2 separate regions of the Homo sapiens genome follow, and region 1 is linked to region 2. A link means that fine-mapping ties the variant in region 2 to the expression of a gene that starts in the linked region. Tissue or cell type: whole blood. Region 2 holds a variant in brackets; the other region holds the start of a gene. All regions are shown on one strand. Distances are between the middles of the regions.

Region 1 (2,611 bases), 310 kb after region 2:
AGCAGAAGAAAAAGTACACCCTAACCCCAGTTACTCTTAGAAGAGGCTCAGTGAAAATAGACACTTAGCAGAGGTGTTCACAAGGAAAGGAGCCTAGTCATCAAATGATCGAGCGATCTCCTTTCCTCAGACTGACAACATATCTGGGGTAGTTGGTGTAGACAGAAACCTTGACCCAGATTCCAAGGCCTCAGAGTGGGTCTGGCTGCCTGATGACTGAGCTGGATTTCCAGATAGGGAGAGGATGGCCAAGTGTGAGTGTGTGGACAGCATGGCTTAGAGCCTGGAGCTCCAGTCATTTCAATAACAAACCTTTAAGCTACCACCTTGGCCACCACAATTTTCTATCTACAAAATGGGTTTTGGCGATTCAAGATCTGTATTGAGCACAGCTAGGTACCAAACCCAGGCTAGGTGTTGAAAATACAAAGATGAATGAGGCATGCTCTCTGCCTTGCAAATCTTTACAACCTAATGGGTTTATACCCAGCTCTTTGAGTTAATTTTTCAAGCCAAAGAGGATCCCTACAAGAAGGACCATGTACCAGGCATATATAGGCAGCTGTTCCATGATCTATAGCAGGGCAAAGTTGTGGACAGAGCCCTGAGCTGTGGGTTAGAAGGCCTGAGTTCTAGCTCCAGCCCTGCTAGTATTTAGCTGTGTGACCTCAGGCACGGCACTGCATTACGCGGAGTCCTGCAGGCTTCATCTGTAGGTAGATATCCTTCCATGTACCACCTCCCTAGGTGGTTGTAAGGATTAAGTAAGCTGATGTTCATTGGGATCCTCGTGCTTCACTGGCACCGAGTTCCTATCCATTTGGTACGAACTGATTCTGAACCACCACTTAGCACCTCTGCAAGAGCTGGCCCACTCGCTCAAGGCCCACCTCTGTAGACCTGAGGAGCTGCTGCCCCATTTTTTGTGGAGAATATGTGCTATACTCATGGCCTTCAGTGGGGAGCTTCTAACACCAAGCCTCATCCATGCCATCCCTCCACCAGCTTCCAACCCACTGAGAGCTCAGCACGTGCTTACGGTGATGTAAAAATGTCATGTTTCATTGCTTCATCCTCATTTTTTCTTTACTCCAAAGGGCGTGGTGACTCCAAGGTAAAGGGGCCAAGCCCATGAGTCAAGGAGGCAGGTTTACAGGAACAACTTTATTTTTTTATGGCTAGCATTAGTCACTGATTAACTTGGGTGGGGCAGAGCTAGAATTTCTAGTTCCTGTCCCATCAAGAAAACTACACTGGAAAGTTCAAGAGTGTCTTTGCTGGCTCTTTCTTGAATATTTCCAAAGCCTTGGAAGTTACAGGTTTTGGGTGTGGGATAAGGAAAAACTGAATGATAGAGCACAGGTACCGCTCCCCTTTCCTCATCATGCCTCTCTGTCGCCTCTTTGTTCATAGTTGACCACGGCATGTTTGAGAATTTGAACACAGCCCTCACTCCAAAGCTCCAGGCCAGCCGCTCCTTCCCCCACTTGTCCAAGCCCGTGGCCCCCGGCTCTGCCCCTCTGGGCTCTGGTGAGCCTGGGGGGCCAGGACTCTGGGTGGGCAGCAGCCAGCACCTCAAGAACCTGGGCAAAGCCATGGGGGCCAAAGTGAATGACTTCCTGAGGAGAAAGGAGCCCTCCAGCCTGGGCAGTGTGGGTGTGACAGAGATCAACAAGACTGCAGGAGCACAGCTGGCCAGTGGGACTGACGCGGCTCCAGAGGCTTGGCTAGAGGATGAAAGGTGAGCCCCTCACCCGCCCAACATCCATGCCCCTCTGTGGACCCACTTGAAAAGGTACAGGGACAAACTGCAGTGTCTGCACAGGAGAACAGCCCCAAGGGAGGGGTGTGAGATTGTCCTGTACTGAAAAGCTGCAGGATCAGGCCACGTTCTCGGGAGCTGGCTTCACCTTCTGCAGCCACAGCTGAAGGTTGCTGAGTGCCCACCATGTCCTCGGCTCTGTGCTGCTGAAGGTTGCTGAGTGCACACCATGTCCTCAGCTCTGTGCTGCAGGCTATAGTTGCATCATTTTGTCTAACCCTCCCAGCAGCCCTGGGAGGTAGATGATATTTCCATCCTGCAGATAACTCACGTTCAGACAGACAAAGTAAATAGCTTGAGGTCACAAAGATAGTACTTGGCAGAGCTGGATTTGAACCCAGCTATTGCCCAGAAGGTCCCCAGGTAGATTCTGATGCCCGGCCATAGCTGAGAAGCGCTGCCGTAGACTGTTGCTTGTGGAGAAGCCTGCACCTGTCACAGCCCACTAGGGCACAGTGGGAGAAGCCCCCTGTAGCAGCCCTCCTGTTCTTCCCCCTCCTACCAACAGGCTCTTTCCAGGCCTTGTTTTAAACACCTGTGCATCTGAGGTGGGAATGCCCTCACATTCCCTGTTTTAAACACAGGACTTACTGCCTGGGTTCTGATTTGACAAGCTTCACCAGCGGTCTCTATCCTGTCTTCTAGAGGCCAGCACTTTGTGCTGCTCTGAACACTGAGTAAGCATGGACCAGGCCAAAAGCTACTGTTATGCTGAAATTGCTAAGGCCTATGTGCCAAACCAAGAACCAGAGCCCAAGGAGTAGAGCAGTTATTGGGTGGGGTGGGTTG
Region 2 (2,761 bases):
TAAATCTCACATGCCCTGAGAGCCTGTGGCTCCTTAGTAACTGCCTCCTGATCTCCCAGTATGTCTTCCTGGTGGCCAGTGCCATCAACTGACTGTCTCTCCTCTCTTGGTGAGAAAGAGACTTTTAATGCTATGGGTACAAAGGATAATAAGAGTATTAATAATAGTTATATCTTATATCTGTAGGTGATTTTTGATTTGCATTGGACTTCTACATACAAAGACTTTTCCTCTTATAGAGACAGGCACAGGCACATTAGTGTTATCTCGATTTTTCAGACCAAAAAATGGAGATCAGAGAGATTAATTTGTCCAGAGTTGCAAATTGGTGTATCAGTTAATGATATTTATTGAGCACTTACTATGTGCCATACATTATTCTAGCCTCTGCCTCACTTAATCCTCACACTCCAGGGCTTTTGACTCCAGGTCCATGGTTCTTTCACCTCCTCCAAGGCTCACTCAAACCTGAAGTATTAATAGTTGCTCCCTTTGTAGTCCTAACACTCATTGCCTAGATTGTTCCCTTATATCTGCGTGTATGATACAGATGGTCAGAACTGGAAAGCACCATGGCTCATCTAGTACAACCCCCTCACCCCATCATTGTACAGATGAGGAAATTGAAGTTTGGAGGGGAAGTCATGGACCCAAGGTCACATAGTCAGATAATAACAGAACCAGGACTTATCCCTGGTTCCCTGGCTTCAAACTGGTTTCAGTTATCCATCACTTCAAAACAAACGACCTCAAGACTCAGTAGCTTGAAACAATAACTGTTTAATTTGCTTATGAATCATGGCTCAGGAATTCAGGCAGGGCTTGGCTGGGCTGTTCTTCTGTTGCTTATGGCGTTGACTGGATCACTCACTTTGCTGCATTCATCCACAGCTAGGCTGGAATGTTCAAGAAGGCTTCACTCATATGACTGTGCCTTGGTCGTCCTTCATGTGACTATTCTCTTCACTGGCTGGCTTGGATTTCCTCACAGCATGGTGGCCCTTTTGTTTGGCAGCTGGTTTTCAGTAGGGGGTGTTCCAAGCAGGAAAGCAGAAGCTCTTAAGGTTGGGTCTTTCTGAGTTACATA[G/A]GGTCACTTCTGCCACATCCTGTTGGTCAAAACAGGCTATTAGGGAAGAGACATAAGCCCTACTTCTTGATGGGGGAATGTCAAGTTCACATTGCAAGATTGCACGTGGGATGAGAGATATTGCTGAAGCTGTTTACCACACAAAATTCTGTTTTTTCCTCTCTGCATATATCTTCTCTGGTGATATGGAATGTTCTTTGAGGACCTTGCCTCATGCCTTGGTGTATCTCCCCCTCCCAAGCCTCAACATCAGGTACAAACATAGTCACAATGAAAAATTGTCAAGTGGAAGAAATGACCAATTGTGGAAAGTCTGAAAGCAGTAAATATCATTGCTGAGTGATTTTGTGGCTTGGGAGCATGTGGTCAGATTGAAGCTGAATTCTCTGGCTATATTTCCTTCCTTGCTACCTGGCTTCATTGGTTGATGGTTTCCCTGATGTGGATTTTAGAGATTCCAGTAACCTCAGCAGGATATCTGTGGATGCCTCTTAAACATACGGCCATGAAGGCCTCCAGATGAATGACATTTGGTCACCGTAAATGGGGTATCCCTGACTCGTCTGAGCCTGCATGGCATGGTACAGAGCTCTCAGAACCATTCCACTATACACTGGGTGTTTATGTCCCCTTTCTCCCTTCTCTCCACCCAGACTAAGGGTCCTGTCTTCCAGGGTTCTGGAACAGTAGCAATTCAGATTAAGGGTCTGATGTATTTTCTGATGTCATCATTAAGGAGGAGACGTAGTTCACTTTCTTATGCTTTTCCAGATGCTTTTAAAAACACTTATCTTCTGCCCAGACTACTTTTTTTTTTGGTGGGGGGCAGTGAGTTCCAAAGATACAGTACTGCTCTGAAATGACACCTATTTTATTTGTCCTTACATTGCTCTCAGATGTCCCAGTATGTTCCTCCACACCTGGTATCTTGGGATTTGATGGACAAATCTATTTCCACGTTAGCTGTACATTTCATGATTTTATGGCTTTCAGTCGTAGTTCCTTTGCCCACAATGTCCCAGTCCTTTTTAGTGGTCAAAATCATGCAGCCACATCTAATGATGACCTTTGCCAGTTATCTATACTAATCAGGCTTGACTCACTGTTTACTATTGCCTACTCATAATGCAGCTACTCCCAAGACTCAAACTTTCAGAATGCTTTCGCTGGCTATAATTACCTGCCTTCCCTTTATACCTTTGTTGCCTTGAGGATGCTCTTAGCTCCTCAGTGACCTTTTTGCTGCCCTTGTCCTGCTGTCTACCCTCCCCAGCAGCCTGGGACCATGCCCATGGCCGTTCCTTCCTGCCTTTTTGCCCTACCCTGCAAACTTGATCTTTGCTACTTTTCTTCTTCCTTTCTGTTTTTGGAAAAGACCATTTATATATTTTCTTTGGAGAATGTCTATTCTGATCCTTTGCTCATTTAAAAGTTGGATTGGCTTTTTACTATTGAGTTCCCTCCTTTCTAATAGTTTTATTGAGATGTAGTTCACATACCATACAATTCACTAATTTAAAATGTATAATTTAGTGATTTTTAAGATATTACAGATCTGTACTACCAGCACCACAGTCAATTTTAGAACATTTTCATCACATTAAAAAGAAACACTAGGCTGGGCGCGGTGGCTCACTGCTGTAATCCCAGCATTTTGGGAGGCCAAGGCGGGTG

What was found. PIP is the estimated chance that this variant, and not a neighbour inherited with it, causes the effect.
Region 1: C1orf226 starts here. The variant in region 2 is fine-mapped to the expression of C1orf226 in whole blood (TOPMed, PIP above 0.99).

What each region holds. Positions count from the first base shown.
Region 1 is chr1:162,380,478-162,383,088 of GRCh38, forward strand. It overlaps C1orf226 (chromosome 1 open reading frame 226), which reads left to right and starts at 1,251. Exons shown (of 2, transcript NM_001085375.2): 1 at 1,251-1,741. The coding sequence starts at 1,425. RefSeq lists a silencer at 1,902-2,196.
Region 2 is chr1:162,073,881-162,076,641 of GRCh38, forward strand. The region is part of intron 1 of NOS1AP (nitric oxide synthase 1 adaptor protein); the gene reads left to right. Among named protein-coding and RNA genes, the nearest start is that of NOS1AP, 5.6 kb to the left of the region's middle. The variant G/A (reference allele first, on the strand shown) is at 1,088.